Regions from separate parts of the Homo sapiens genome. Here all the other regions are reported to be linked to region 3. The links are microRNA targets in miRTarBase. Many come from high-throughput screens and were not tested one by one. Region 3 holds a microRNA gene; each other region holds the end of a gene's coding sequence.
Evidence for each region. The annotated mature microRNA hsa-miR-6836-3p reads AUGCCUCCCCCGGCCCCGCAG and lies in region 3 at 1,003-1,023, shown strand. An mRNA with a match to its seed (bases 2 to 7 or 8) in the 3' UTR can be bound and repressed. Matches are read on the target gene's strand: a 7mer-m8 pairs with bases 2 to 8, a 7mer-A1 pairs with bases 2 to 7 and ends in A, and an 8mer does both.

Region 1: miRTarBase lists SIX4 as a target of hsa-miR-6836-3p. The part of its 3' UTR that is shown has no 7-base or 8-base seed match.
Region 2: miRTarBase lists PRPF4 as a target of hsa-miR-6836-3p. Seed matches in the 3' UTR shown: 7mer-m8 at 2,290-2,296.
Region 4: miRTarBase lists ZNF860 as a target of hsa-miR-6836-3p. The part of its 3' UTR that is shown has no 7-base or 8-base seed match.
Region 5: the mRNA of BRMS1 is a reported target of hsa-miR-6836-3p. Seed matches in the 3' UTR shown: 8mer at 777-784.

Annotation. Positions count from the first base shown.
Region 1 is chr14:60,710,510-60,713,574 of GRCh38, forward strand. It overlaps SIX4 (SIX homeobox 4), which reads right to left. Exons shown (of 3, transcript NM_017420.5): 3 at 1-3,065. The coding sequence ends at 2,898. Among named protein-coding and RNA genes, the nearest start is that of SIX4, 12 kb to the right of the region's middle.
Region 2 is chr9:113,291,371-113,294,435 of GRCh38, reverse strand. PRPF4 (pre-mRNA splicing tri-snRNP complex factor PRPF4) reads right to left here. Exons shown (of 14, transcript NM_001244926.2): 14 at 1,531-2,969. The coding sequence ends at 2,776. Among named protein-coding and RNA genes, the nearest start is that of RNF183, 10 kb to the left of the region's middle.
Region 3 is chr7:2,255,415-2,258,537 of GRCh38, reverse strand. MIR6836 (microRNA 6836) reads left to right here and starts at 961; the gene lies at 961-1,023. SNX8 (sorting nexin 8) reads left to right here. Exons shown (of 11, transcript NM_013321.4): 8 at 735-803; 9 at 1,024-1,173; 10 at 1,515-1,664. RefSeq lists an enhancer at 1-626.
Region 4 is chr3:31,990,768-31,993,832 of GRCh38, reverse strand. It overlaps ZNF860 (zinc finger protein 860), which reads right to left. Exons shown (of 2, transcript NM_001137674.3): 2 at 2,110-3,065. The coding sequence ends at 2,855. It also overlaps a transcript of OSBPL10 not described here. Among named protein-coding and RNA genes, the nearest start is that of ZNF860, 11 kb to the right of the region's middle.
Region 5 is chr11:66,335,145-66,338,209 of GRCh38, reverse strand. BRMS1 (BRMS1 transcriptional repressor and anoikis regulator) reads left to right here. Exons shown (of 10, transcript NM_015399.4): 10 at 321-871. The coding sequence ends at 328. RIN1 (Ras and Rab interactor 1) reads left to right here and starts at 1,776. Exons shown (of 10, transcript NM_004292.3): 1 at 1,776-1,893; 2 at 2,052-2,232; 3 at 2,334-2,448; 4 at 2,528-2,600; 5 at 2,712-2,803; 6 at 2,959-3,065. The coding sequence starts at 1,808. RefSeq lists an enhancer at 442-1,296.

The sequences.
Region 1 (3,065 bases), not on the chromosome of region 3:
CAGCCAGCAGCATGGGTTGGGTTTTGCAGGGAGTCATTTACCCCTGTTTTGATCTTCAGGGATCATTAGAGGGTCATTTGCAGCATTTTCAAGCATTGGTTTATGTAAGAGGGAAATTCTGCCACATGACTCCAAGGGTTCTGAGTCTGGCCCTTGGTATGGCAAAAGACATTTGCAATTCTGTGCAAGGAGATCATGGGGTTTATCTTACTCCATTCACATATACATGGGCTGCATACCAACTGGCCCTTATTCAACTGAAAGAATAGAAAAGAACAATAAGTTCTTTATACTGTGCATTGATTCTTACCTGGTATATTGTGTAGCTACCTGAAGTAATTGTAGGGTTATAATTACATCATGGTGGGAATATGAATGGGTTTCCTAGGTAAGTCTTAAGTTTTGTGCTATCTTTTCTTTTTCATAAGGGAGAAAAGAGGAAGAACACTGAATAAAAGAGAGGCTTATTGTATTTTCGGAAAACATATAAAACATTTCCAGTTATATATATATATATAGCATATATAACTAAAAACCTCCCCATCTCTCTTGTTGGATGGGTATTTGAAAATAACAAACTCTTGATATCTGCAGCAATCAAGTGGAAAACATCATTTTTATGTAAACTACACTGCAGAGCCATGTAATTAATCTCAGTAACAGGATCAGCACACACCCAAAGAAAAAACAAGCTCTATGAGTAGTAGTAGAGTGGAAAAGAACTCTCAAACACCTGACTTTGTAAAACAAAACAAAAAACATGTAGCTTCAGCAGTTTAGGAACATTCACCAATTCTATCAAAAATGATGTAGTTCTTTATCAAAATGATGGGAGAGGAATTCTTCATAGGGTTCTTGATATATGCCTGCAAGTTCCATTTATGATAACAAAAGTTAAATCCTCTATGTCCCTTATTCAACATGCTTGATTGATTGACATGTAGAGAACTAGAGTGGGCCCTTTGTTCTGATCATAAAAAAAAAAGCAAGATGTGGCCAGGCACAGTGGCTCATGCCTATAATCCCAGCACTTTGGGAGGCCGAGGCGGGCAGATCACGAGGTCAGGAGATCAAGACCATCCTGGCTAACACGGTGAAACCCCGTCTCTACTAAAAATACAAAAATTTAGCCGGGCATGGTGGCAGGTGCCTGTAGTCCCAGCTACTCGGGAGGCTGAGGCAGGAGAATGGCGTGAACCCAGGAGGCAGAGCTTGCAGTGAGCCAAGATCGTGCCACTGCACTCCAGCCTGGGCAACAGAGCGAGACTCCATCTCAAAAAAAAAAAAAAAGCAAGATGTGCTAACATCTAACACCTTTATGTTCAACAACTTGAAGTTATCTCTGAAGAAATTATTTTCTCACTTTTTTTGCTTTTCAGAGACTAGAGAGCAACTTTACTCACTACATAAATTTATTTGCATTGTTACATCTTGTGTTCAGAGTCTTGATAAAACTATAGCCACGGCTTACAACATTATTAAACAAGCTTCTTACAGAAACCAAAAATATTTACTTTTAAAGAAGACATGATAATATAGTGCAAACAACAGTCATGTGTCAGAGTGTAACAACTGATTCAAAACCTTTAGAACTAAGTTTCAACAGGACAGAATTTTGCTCAATAGAATTTACATATTTTCTTTCCTTTAAAATGGTTTTCATAGCCTGTATAATCAATTTGACATGGTATTTATAACTTATTTTCCTTGTAATGAAAAGTATCAACAATAATTAGTTGTTTATCCATTTGTGTGATAAATGTCATATATATTATTTAGTGAAACTTAAGTTCTTCAGATTTAAAGCAATTTTGTGGTGAAATTAACCCTGTTAGATAGTAGAAAAGAACCATCAGTGCTTCTGTTGACACTTCTGTACCTTACTACCAATAAAAAGGCCACGAGGTAAAAAGGCACATAGAATTCTATAAAAAACATATTTAAATGAATCAGAGTTGCTAAATAAAGAACAAGGATGTGAAAAAAAGTACCAAAATTCCAATATTGGGAGTTAGATTTCCTGTTTCAGTGTTATTAATATTGACCTTAATAGATTCCTGGTAAAAATCATTATTTTTAAAATCCTACAAAAAGTAAAACTTTGTTGGAAACGACTATGTTCACTTCCTGTTCAAACAATAAAAATAAATTAAACAGTAAGAAAACATATTTTTCAGTTCATAGCGCCTGAAGAGAAACATATACATTAAAAATAAAATTCACTGTAATTACTCAAATCCTGCTTATAGAACTGATATATTTACATTTATACTGAAGTTTCAGAGTTTTTAGTGGAGTTCCGCACTTTCTCAGCCACACTGAGCTATTAGAAATCACATTTGGAAATGTGTTGAGACAAATGTGTTTGAGACCCAAGACTTTCTCAAAAAATGCTGAAAAAGAGGTGTGTGTGCATATATATATGCATGCTACTTAACTTTAAAAATATGTACCATTTATGTTTCTTAACCTTTTCAATGCCCATGGAGTAAAAGTAAACAAAAACAATTGTATTATTTCTAATGGTCTGCAGCTATCTTTAATTTTCTATGTTAGGTGTATACATTTTTTAATTTAAAAAACTATCAAGTTCCATTTTGACCTTAGAATTATAGAGTCAACTAAATGATTCACTTTGACTTGATACATTTCACCTTGTCCTTTGTCTCCATCTATTTAAAAGAGAAATTTATAAGTGAACAAAAAGGCTGCAATAATGCAGTTCTACTCCTGTATACTTAACTGTGATCTTCATGCAGATCAATCTAAAGTCTCTTGTATGCATATACTTGCAAAACTAGAGTGTTTTCCTTTAAATGGGAAAATGTTTTGTGTCCTTGGGGCTTCATGAAAAGATTTGCCGCTGATGCCAAAAAGAGGTGAGGAGGAAATAAAGTTCATAAGTCTTGCATATCTTCATCCAGCTGGACAGTCTGGAGCTTGGCAAGCTCTTTTTTGTCTGTTTCCAGGTCTTCACAGACAGTATCAACCATGCCATCTAAGACATACTTGGATTTAGAGTCCAGCATCATTAAGCTACTTGTTGCTTTGCTCTCAGAATTTGA
Region 2 (3,065 bases), not on the chromosome of region 3:
ACCTGTGAAACCTTCATAAGGTCATCAATGGTCAGATGACAGTTCAAATTCAAGCTCCATCACTTGCTAGCTGGCTAAACTTGAGCAAGTGTTTTTGGAGCCTGTTTTGTCCATAAAAAGGGAATAATAAACTCAAAAGATTGTGGGGATTAAACAAGGTATCTGAATGTGCCTGGTATACCATCTAGGTAGGGACTAAGTGTTCTGTGAAACGGTGGCTGTTTATCTTGCCATTTTCACAAATGCCACACCTGGCTTTGTGCTTCTTAACCACTTTCTTACAATGATGTTTTAATTCCTGTGAAGAAATAGCCCACAAGGTATTTGTTCTGTCAAAGGCTTGGATGAAATGTTTTCACCCAACTGCTACCTCTTGGACCAACCAAAAAACAAAGAAAAACAAGTCGAAGGGAACTAATAGCAAAATTTAAACCTGAGAAACTAAAAATCTTTGTTAGCACATTATATCCAATTGCATGCTAATTCACCAGTGTTCTTCATTATTTTACACATACTACAAAGAAGAAAAAAAGTTCTTTTCATCATAATCTATGAAATAGAATTCATTAATACCTGAACAATAGTGAAGTGAGCAACAGAGGGTAGTCCTGAGAATTCAGAAGCTGAACAACTACATAGGAAATGCAACTATTTGGTTATAATTGAAATCAGATTAAAAACAGTATGTTTAGGTCAGGCACAGTGACTCATGCCTGTAATCCCAGCATTTTGGGAGGCCAAGGCAGGATTGCATGAGCCCAGAAATTTGAGACCGGCCTGGGCAACAAAGTGAAATCGTGTCTCTACCAAAAAATCAAAAAAATTAGCTAGGCATGGTGGCATCCTCCTGTGATCCCAGTTACACAGGATGAGGGGATGAGGCAGGAGAATCATTTGAGCACAGGAAGTCAAGGCTGTGGTGAGCTGTGTTCGCACTACTGCACTCCAATCTCGGCGACAAAGCGAGACCCTGTCTCAAAATGAAACAAAACAAACCAGTTGTTTGGCTATATATCACACATTCAGGGTCCACAGAATAGAGCTGACCAAAGCCATTGTCAACCTCTCTGCAACAGCAAATTAAGTTTTTTTGAGATGGAGTCTTGCTCTGTTGCCCAGGCTGTAGTACAACGGTGTGATCTTGGCTCACTGCAACCTCCGCCTCCCAGGTTCAAGCGATTACATACGTGAGCCACCGTGCCCGGCCAAGAAGCCTTTCTTTAATAACTCTCCTCTGTAGACAACCTTTTCTTCTTCCAAATTCCTATATATTTTTTTGAATTTACTGTGTAATTTGAGAGTTCAGAGGCTGTATAGTTGAGGTGAAAAGAGGTGCATGACAGACAAGTTAAGAATTGTAATTGAGTCCAGGCCTGGCTTACTGGCAGTCTGGCCCAAAATGCAAACAGCCTTCTATTTTAAAAAAAATTGTTAACAAGGTGCTAAGGAGACATAAATCAGAGTAATCCATATTTGAGATCATCCATTATATCCCAAACCAAAAAAAAGAGACCTCTATGGACCAATGGCTAGGATTCAGAAAATGCTTAACTATAGAAAATAATTCTTTATAGGGTAGTTTTGTAACAGGATTTTACCGTAGCAAATGTGGAATAAAGAAAAGGTTTAGGTTTAGGAACACCCATTAGGGTTTTTTCGTTACTTCAACATAAAGTACCCTTTAATACACGAAGTACATCCTTTAAACAGCCAAGAGAAAGGAGGTTGTACAATAGAGACGTCATGTTTGCTTTCTAAACATTTGTTTGACTCCTGACACAATGGTTTTGCTTTGGGGTAACATGAAGGTTGCCAAACTTCAAAGTAAAAAAAAAGATATTTTCTGACAAAGCAAATGTTCAGTTCAGAGTTGCCTGATGCTGTCAGCATTCCAAGCAAACTCAATAGGAAGAGGTGAAGTCTTCTTCACTGTATAACCATCGGCGTGGCTGCGGTCTACTGCTTCACATCCCATTCTCCAGGGAAAGGAAAAGTGCTCGCTATGATGCATTGTTTAACCAATGAGTGGTGAGATGTGCCTCTTTACCTGAGGGCTTCCAGACTATAGTTCAGCCACCTTGCTCTCTGGGTCATATGTAGTCCTGAAGCATGTACCATGTTATGGAAAGCCAAGTTTCAAGAATTAAAAATGCAGAGTCAGTCACAATCCTGGGTGCTGTGAGGAAGGCTATAAGGCATTCGAACAAATTTTTTTTTTTTTTGAGACAGGGTCTTGCTCTGTCACACAGGCTAGAGTGCAATGGCGCAATCTCGGCTCACTGCAACCTCTGCCTCCCAGGCTTAAGCAATCCCTCCCACCTCAGCCTCCCAAGTAGCCGGAATCACAGGCAGAAGCCACCGCGACCAGCTAATTTTAGTATTTTTTTGCAGAGACGGCATTTGCCATGTTGCCCAGGCTCGTCTTGAACTCCTGAGCTCAAGCGATCTACCCACCTCGGCCTCCCAAAGTGCTAGGATTACAGGCGTGAGCCACCACGCCCGGCCAAACAAAAGATTAATAAAAACAATGTCTACACAGTTCGTGGCAGGGCGTAAAAAGGTAATAAATTTTCAACCGTGAGAGGGGTTCCCCATCACCTAGGGATTGGGCTGCCTTCCTGGAGTGGGGGCTGACATGGAAATCCAATTCTACTGAGGGTCTATGCATGGTAATTGGCAGAAAACATGATAGAACTAAACACTTCAATTCTTCTCGTTTGAGGAAAACAGCTCCTTAGAGAGAGCTTGAGGTTCAAGTCCTTTTCCCATTGTCATCTATTCAGCCATCCACAGCTTGAAGGTCCTGTCATATGAGCAAGTGGCTATGAGCTGCCCATCGGAAGAAATATCTAGGCCCATCACTTTGCCTTCGTGGCCAGCCAGAGTCTTCAGCGGGGACCAGCCTGGGTGCGTCCAGATCTTGGCTGTGTTATCATAGGCACCAGTAAGCAAGAAGTTCCCATGGATAGCTACAGGAGAAGAGAAGGGGAATTGCTTGAGGAATTCAAGTATTCAAAAGAGAAGACAAAAGCACAAAAGTCTGCAAAAACATACTATTTTTAAAA
Region 3 (3,123 bases):
ACGGCTCACAGCGTTATATGGGAACTCGGGTTTTCTGCAGTGCTTGATGGAGCCTTAGGGGTCGGGGGGTCTGGGGCATCTGGCTCTCCCAGCATATGTGTTGGGAGAGTCGCCGGCTTTGCGAAGGCCTGAGAAAGGCAAGGCAGGCCGGGCTGATGAGCAGGAGGGCGGGCAGCTGTCCCGCGGGAACGCAGGCCTTGTTCCCATCAAGACTGCTGGGCCAGGCCCAGCGCGGTGGCTCACGCCTGTAATCCAGCACTTTGGGAGGCCGAGGCGGGCGGATCACGAGGTCTGGAGATCAAGACCATCCTCGCTAACACGGTGAAACCCCGTCTCTACTAAAAAAAGAAATACAAAAAATTAGCCGGGCATGGTGGAGGGCGCCTGTAGTCCCAGCTACTCGGGAGGCTGAGGCAGGAGAATGGCGTGAACCCGGGAGGCGGAGCTTGCAGTGAGCCGAGATCGTGCCACTGCATTCCAGCCTGGGCGACAGAGCGAAGACTCCGACTCAAAAAAAAAAAAAAAAAAAGACTGCTGGGCTCGAAGGCGTGTCCGCCTGGTAATGGGTGGGCTGGTGGGGAAGGGGGCCCCCTGCAGACCTGGCTGGTGGTCCTGGGGAGCCCGTCTGACTCTGGGAGGAAGGAACCGGCCCAGGCCAGGCTTGGGTCTGAGTTCCCGGGCAGGGACCGGGTCCTATGTGCGTCCGCGTGGGTGAGCTCCCCCTCGCCTTCCAGGGTAAGCAGGAAGAGAACGACGTGGTGGAGAAGCTGAACCTCTTCTTGGATCTGCTGCAGTCCTATAAGGTGAGTCTTGGCTGCTCCTTGGCTGGGGGCAGAACTTTCAGGAATGATCTTAGGATCCTTCAAGGGTCTAACTCCTGGGGGACGGAAGAGGAGCTGAGAAGCCAGGGCTGCAGGGGAAGACGGGGCCTTCCGTCTGGCGGGGGTGCTTCCCTCGGCCGGCTCCGCAGGGCCCTGGCGCAGGCATCCAGACAGCGGGCGAATGCCTCCCCCGGCCCCGCAGGACCTGTGCGAGCGGCATGAGAAGGGCGTGTTGCACAAGCACCAGCGGGCCCTGCACAAGTACAGCCTGATGAAGAGGCAGATGATGAGCGCCACCGCGCAGAACCGCGAGCCGGAGTCCGTGGAGCAGCTGGAGTCCCGCATTGTGGAGGTGGGTGGCGGGGCGGCCGAGCAGGCCCGTGGGAGCCTTTCCCCTCCCGGCCATGGTGGGACCCGGAGCCGTCCTGGTGGGCTCCCCTGGGTTGGCTCCTTGTGTCTGGAACAGAGCTGGGGGTGCAGTGGAGGCAGGGAGCTGGCCCGCGTGCCCAGAGCGATGCGGCTCCCTGCACGGTGCTCCCTCCCCGGCCCTCTCTTACCTCGCCACCTTCCAAATGCCTGGTGAAGGCTGAAGGAGAAGGGGCCGCCCTGGCTCAGGGAGCACGCTGGTGTTCGGGCCTTGGTGCTCCCGTCGCCGGCTGGGCCGGGTGCGAAAGGCGGCTGTTTGCTCCGCAGCAGGAGAACGCGATTCAGACGATGGAGCTGCGGAACTACTTCTCCCTGTACTGCCTGCACCAGGAGACGCAGCTCATCCACGTCTACCTGCCCCTCACCTCCCACATCCTCCGCGCCTTCGTCAACTCTCAGATCCAAGGGCACAAGGAGGTGAGTCCGCCCTGCTCCGGCCGCCGTCTCGGCCACGGCCTTTCTTTGTCCCTCCGCCCTTCCTTCAAGCCCGGCAGCGCGGTGGCCGGCCGCCCTAGAGAGGTTCTTTAGTGGAGTTGGGCTCCGCATGGGCCTTGGAACACGGTGCTCGCCCGGATCTTCTAGTCTCCTGTGTAGCCAAAATCAGAATCGTGAGGGTGTCCCTGTGATTCCTGGGGGGCGGAGGGAGGAGCAGACAGGGAGAGTTTGCCTCCTGGAGGGATTTGAGAAGTCGGAGGTAAAGCCCGCAGAGCTCCCGCACCCTGCGGCTGAGAGAAGGTTTCTAGCGCTTCGGAGCGCCGCAGGTGGCTGTTCTTCCAGAGAGCCCTGGCCGGCTTCCTCCAGAGCAGATGGCGGTTCCTTCAGCCTGGGAGAAGAAACGCTCCCAAGGTCCTGGGACAGGCCTCCGTTGATTTCTGGTGGCCAGCTCACTGCAGCACCGCTGGGATTACAGGCGAGCACCTTGTGCCCGGCTGAAATTAAGTTTATTAAGTAGCTGCAAGTAGCTTTCAAGCCATGGTCTGTGGTGTGTGTGGAATGGCACCGAGTGTCTGGGGTGGTCACGAGATTCCACACTGTCCCCGGGAGGTGCTTGGTGCCGTGGGTGCCGTCCAGCACTTTGGGAATGGCAGGCTGGAGGCGGCCGTGGTGGGGCTGGAGAGGCGGTAGACAGCCGCCGTGTTAGGAGCATCACTGTGAGATGGCCAGGGTCTCAGGGACCAGGTTGGACTTGGACATGTGAGTGGCCGGGTGTGTCCTCAGTGAAGGAATGGGACCAACAGGCGCCCGGAGCATGATGCCATAACCCCAGTCCTACCAGGTTTTTTATTGTGGTGGTGAGGAATTTCCAGCCCTGTGATGCTGTGTGCGCTGTGGTCCAGTGACTCAGCCTCCCCTGCAGGCCCCCAGGGTGCGCCCTGCCCTTCTCTGGCCACCTGAGCCCCTGCACGGCAGGTCTTGGCCTGACCCCTGCCTCACTGCCGCGCTCCCCTCCTCACATCCACAGCATCCGTTCCTTGCCCTGGTTCCAAAAGTGCTTGGCGAGTGGGGCCGCCGTTTGCATTCCGGTTTGGGTATTATTGATTTGGTGGATGTGGTCTTTGTGTTTTTGGTTTGCTTTTTGGTTTTGAGGTGGAGTCTTGCTCTGTCACCCAAGCTGGAGTGCAGTGGTGCAATCACAGCTCACTGCAGCCTCAACCTCCCGAGTAGCTGGGACCACAGGCAGGTGCCACCACATCCGACTCATATTTCTGATTTTCTGTGGAGACAGGGTGTCCGTGTGTTGCCCAGGCTGGCCTTGGTGTTTGACCTGCCAAGGCTTCCATGAGGCCAGTGCCCGCACGGCAGCTAGAGCATGTACTGGCAGTGACGCGATAGTAACGTTTCTCACGATTCCACGGCAGGCAGATTTGCAGCCCTT
Region 4 (3,065 bases), not on the chromosome of region 3:
TGTTTAACTTTAAAAGACACTGTCAAACTGTTTTCCAAAGTGACTGTATTATTTTGCACTCTCACCAGCAATGTGTAAGAGTTCCAATTACTCCACATCCTCACCAGCACTTGGTATCCTCAGTTTTGTGTGTGTGTGTGTGTGTGTGTGTATGTGTGTGTAGTCATGTTAATAGGTATGTAGTAGTATCTCATTGTAGTTTTACTTGTATTTCCCTAATGACTAGTAATGTTGAACATCTCTTGATGTGCTTTTTCGGACATCTGTATATCTTATTTGGTGAAGTGAATGCTCACATTTTTTGTGATTAAAAAAGGGTTTTCTTGTCTGGGCGCGGTGGCTCATGCCTGTAATCCCAGCACTTTGGGAGGCCGAGGCGGGTGGATCACCTGAGGTCAGGAGTTTGAAACCAGCCTGACCAACATGGAGAAACCCTGTCTCTACTAAAAATACAAAATTAGCCGGGCATGGTGGCGCATGCCTGTAATCCCAGCTACCGGGAGGCTGAGGCAGGAGAAGTGCTTGAACCTGGGAGGTGGAAGTTGTGGTGAGCTGAGATCGTGCCATTGCACTCCAGCCTGGTCAACAAGAGTGAACTCTGTCTCAAAAATAAAATAAAATAAAATAAAATAAAATAAAATAAAATAAAATAAAATAAAATAAAATAAGGTTTTCTTACTTCTGCATTTTGAGGGTTCTTTGAATATGCGGGAAACAAGTCCTTGGTCAAACACATGATTTGCAAATATTTTCCCGTCTTTGGCTCACCTTTCATTTCCTTACCCATATCTTTTGTAGAGTAAATATTTTCAGTATTTGTTTATTTTTTAGAGACAGGGTCTTGCTCTATTGCCTGGGCTGGAGTGCAGTGGCATGATCACAGCTCACTGCAGCTTTGAACTTCTGTGTTCAAGTGATACTCCTGCCTCAGCCTCTTGAGTAACTAGGACTACAGGCATGTGCCATCCACACCCAGCTAATATTTTATTTAAAAAACTTTCTGGACAGATGTTACCTTGCTATGTAGCCCAAGCTGGTCTTGAAATCCCAGCCTCAAGTGATGTTCCTGCCTTGGCCTCCCAAAGTGCTGGGATTACAGGCATGAGTCACCATGCCTGGCCAAGGTTTGTTTGTTTTTTGCATATAGATGTCTAGTTCCATCACTTGTTGAAAAGATCATCCAGGTGTGCTCAATGTAATCACAAGGGTCCTTATGAAAAATGCAGGAGGGTCAGAGTCAGAGAAGGAGATGCAATGACAGAACCAGAGATTGGAGTGATGTCCTTGCTGAAAGGGGCCAAAAACCAGGAACCAAGGAATGTGGGCAGCCTCTAGATGCTGGAAAAGGCAAGTAATAGATTCTCCCCTAGAGCCTCCAGAATCAACATGGCTCTACTGATACCTTGATTTTACCATGTAAGACCCATTTTTGGGCTTCTGACTGCCAGAACGGTAAAATAATCAAGTTGTATTGTTTTATAATAACCACTATGTTTATGGTAATATTTTATAGTAGCAATAGGAAACCAATACAAAAAGCTGCATTGAATTGCCTTTGCATTTCTGTCAAAATCAAGTGACTATATTCATATGAAACTATTTCTAGATTATTTATTCTGTTCCATATTTCTATGTGTCCATACTTTTTGCCTACACCACACTGACATATCTTTTTTTTTTTTTTTTTGAGATGGAGTCTCGCTCTGTTGCCTAGGTTGGAGTGCAGTGGGGCGATCCTGGCTCACTGCGACCTCTGCCTCCCAGGTTCAAGTGATTCTCCTGCCTCAGCCTCCCCAGTAGCTGGGACTACTGGTGCGTGCCACTACGCCTGGCTAATTTTTGTATTTTTTGTAGAGGTGGGGTTTTGCCATGTTGACCAGGCTGGTCTCAAACTCCTAACCTCAAGTGATCCACCCAAAGTGCTGGGATTACAGGCATGAGCCACTGCACCTGGCATTTTTTTTTTTTTAGCCTGTCTTGAATTCTCTTATTTTCACTGCTTCATATCTTCAGGATATGAAAAGTTGGTCAGTGGTAGTGAGAAAGATCCCAAAACATAAGGATCAAAAAATGGCATGTTTCAGGGTAGGCATCTGTATTAGTTATCCATTTTTTTTTTCAGAAAGAAAGAAGTAAAATTGTATTTGTTTGTAGATGACATGATCTGCTGTGTAGAAAATCACAGAGTCAACTAAAATACTACTGAAGCTAATAAACACAGTGTATTTGCAGAATACAATATCAGTACCAAAAATTAGTTAAATTTCCATACATTAACAATAAACAATGTTAAAAGAAAATTAAGAAAACACTTCCATTTGCTAGAGAACTTACAGTAAGAAATATTTAGGAATAAACGTAAAAAGGTGAGAAGTTTGTACCTTGAAATCTACAAACATTGATCAAAATGATTAAAAACTTATATAAATAGAGATATGACCCATATTGATGGATTGGAAAGATTAATATTGTTAAATGATTATATAACCCAATGTGATTTAGATTCAACACAATACCCATAAAAATCCCTATCAGAAACAAAAAACAGGCTAGGAAAAGTGGCTCACGTCTTTTGGCCAGGATGGTCTCAAACTCCTGACCTCAAGTGATCTATCCGTCTTGACCTCCCACAGTGCTGGGATTACAGGTATAAGCCACCCTGCCCAGCCCAATCCTCTTAACGTAAACACTTTAATGTCAATTAATGCTTGAACTCAATGTCAAGTCAACTGAAACTCAAGTCAATGCTGAATTGACTCTAATGTCAATTAATGCTTGATGGTTTGCTATACTCATTGCATTTGGAACAATTATCTCAGGAATGAATTTTCTGATGTTTTGCAAGGAGTGACCTCTAACTGAAGACCTTGCCACGCTTATGACATTTGTAAGATTTCTGTCCGGTATGGATTCTCTGATGTCTAATGCGATGTGAATGTGAAGTAAAGGCTTTGCCACAATCATCACACTTGTGATGTTTCTCTCCCATATGAATTCTCCTTTGTTTTGCATAAGATGAAGCTTGACTGAAGGCCTCGTCAAAATCATCACATTTGTAAGGTTTC
Region 5 (3,065 bases), not on the chromosome of region 3:
CCCCCTTGCCATCACCTTTCCTCAGCTCAGCTTCCAGGAAGGAGCCCAGAGAAAGGCTGTGACTGTGTCAGAATCAGTGGCTCAAGAAAGTTAGGATGGTCTAGATTTGAGGGGCTTGTGGGAGTTTGAGGAGCAGGAACCAGGATGGGGCTGGGGAAGCTCTGGGTTGATGGAGCTCCCACTCAGGAGGGGTCAGGGAGGGCTGTGGAGCTGCCCAGGAGGCCTGTTCTGGGCCAGCCCAAAGCCACTCAGTAAGTGGCTGCCTCCTTCCTTTCAGCTTCCTAACTGGTGACAGTTTTCTTCTTCCCACATATGCACAGGACCTTGACCCTGCTGTTCACAGCCAGGGGGACCCTCAGAGCAGCTGGCACTGCACCCAGGATTCTCGTCTTCCTCCTGCAGACAGGCGGACCCACAGGCCCCTCAGGGTCTGCCCAGCCAGGCTCCTGTGGTGCTGCTGGGCCCTCCCACTCCATCTGGCACTGGCCTGGACTCCTCCTCTGCCCTCCTCGAGGCCTGCACAGCTGTGGCCGTGGAGCTGACCTGACCAGGCAAGGCTGCTGTCTCCATCCCTGAGCCGCCTGCCACCTCCCACTCCTGAAGATCCATCTCTTGGGGCTCCCCTGACAGAGAAGACAGCCGAAGTCAAAGCCACATCCTCTTGCTGATGTTGGATGCAGGCTGTCCGGCCTCAGGGCCAGGGAGCCAGTTTCCACTGTGCGGGAACTCTGAGTCAGACGTGATTATCTGGGGGTCTGTCCACCCTGGCTGGATCTGGAGGCAAGATGCCAGGCCCCCCAGGTGTTCTCAGGGCAGTTCTTGGTGTCTGCTTCTCAGATTCCAAGGACTGGAATTAAAACCTTTCCTGGGACTCTGGCGTGCCCTGTGTGTGTGTGTGATTTACCTTGCAAGAGAATCAGGGCTCCCGTGGGGAGCACCTGAACCAGGCCGACTTCTAGGGTGCCTGCAGATTGCCACTCCTCACACTACCCAGCAGAGGCTAGAGCACTGTGCGTGGGGCCAGGCTGGGGAGGGGGAGGTGGGCGCTGGGCTGCCTGGCGCTGGGCAGAGTCAACATATGGCACCGGGAGAGTGCCTCGGCGGGGAGGGTGGATGCGTGTGCTTGGAGCCTGGGTCATGTCTGCACCTGTCCCAGTTGCCTGGCAGATTGGCAAGGCAGGCTGGCAGAGCCTGCGTGCGTGGGAGGCAGCCGGCAGCACCGCCATGTGCTGACGACCTCACAGCCAGACTCCCCCTGGTTAGCACTGAGTGTCAGAACCACCCCCAGAACCTCAGTTAAGCAAATAGGTTGGTTTCCATGGAGACATGGCATATTTTCTCCATGGCAACCTAAAATCCTAAAACCCAGGTTCAGGAATGAGTCATCTATGGACAGTAGAGGGTGCTCTCCCACAAGGCTGACCTGAGGCCAGGGGCAGATGAGCAACTGACCACAGAGCCAAAGGTGCCCCCAGAGCATGGCTGGGGCCTGTGGGGACTGAGGCCGCTTAACCACTTCCCGCCCACGTGTGCAATGTGAGTAGCTGGTGAGGCTGCAGGAGGCCGTGTGTGGAGGTGGCATCCCCCAGCTGGGGCCCTCAGAGCAGGGCTAGCATGGAGGGGACCCCTGACCCCCAAAGCAGGGTCCAGAACAGAGGAGGCGGGCACTGGCCAGGCAGGGTGGACACACAAGAGTTAACTGGCGGGTGTGACAGGCGGACCGCCCTCAGGAAGTGTTACTCACTGGGGATGTGCGTGCCTTGCCTTGGGACTGGATTCTCTTCCTGAAGCGAAGGAGCTCCCAGCCATGGAAAGCCCTGGAGAGTCAGGCGCGGGCTCTCCTGGAGCCCCCAGCCCGTCCAGCTTCACTACTGGGCACCTGGCGAGAGAAAAGTTAGTGAAGTTGGCAGGGCAGCCAGGTGGGGCAGGGAGGGGCTGCGAGAGGAGGGCCTATCCGGGGATAGAGAAAGTGGGAAACCCGGGAGTGGGGAAGAGGAGAGCAAGGGTCCCAGCCCCTGGCTCCCTGCTCAGATCTGGGTGCCTGCCCCCAGGCCAGCCCAGGACCCACTGTATGACGTGCCCAATGCCAGCGGCGGGCAGGCAGGCGGGCCGCAGCGGCCGGGGCGCGTTGTGAGCCTGCGGGAGCGCCTGCTGCTCACCCGGCCCGTGTGGCTGCAGCTGCAAGCCAACGCAGCGGCCGCACTGCACATGCTGAGGACCGAGCCCCCGGGGGTGAGTCTTGCCCCACACTCCAGGGACTGGCCAGCCAGGGGTGGGAGGGAGAGGGATGGGACGCCAAGGTCCTGAGCTGCCTGAGCCCTATCCACTTGCAGACGTTCCTCGTGCGGAAATCTAACACCCGCCAGTGCCAGGCCCTGTGCATGCGGTTGCCTGAAGCCAGTGGCCCCTCCTTCGTCTCCAGCCACTACATCCTGGAGAGCCCTGGCGGTGAGGGGCTGGCCTGGCGGGAAGGGGCTGGAAGCAGGGAGGTTCCCCAGAGAAGCACCTCACTTCCCTCCTCTCTCAGGCGTCTCCTTGGAGGGCTCGGAGCTCATGTTCCCAGACCTAGTCCAGCTCATCTGTGCCTACTGCCACACCCGGTGAGTCTGCCCGCAGGGTGCCTGGTGTCCACGGGCCCTGCTCCTTGGGACAGCCCATCCTTCCCGCCCTCTTCGGCCCTCACTCCCTTCTGCTCCCCTCTCTGGCCTCAGGGACATCCTTCTCCTCCCGCTGCAGCTCCCCAGAGCCATCCACCACGCAGCCACTCACAAAGAGCTGGAGGCCATCTCCCATCTGGGCATTGGTAAGGGCTTCCTGCCACCCATTGCACAGATGAACAAGCTGAGGCCGAGGGGAAGGCAAGGCTCGCAGCACACCGCCCGAAGCCCCTGCCTTGCCTTGGTTGGGAAACTTCCCCTAACCAGTCCCGGAGGCCCCAGTCGGTTTCTTGTTCCCTAGAGTTCTGGAGCTCCTCCCTCAACATCAAGGCTCAGCGGGGCCCGGCTGGAGGCCCAGTGTTGCCCCAGCTGAAGGCCCGGTCCCCTCAAGAGCTGGACCAGGGCACC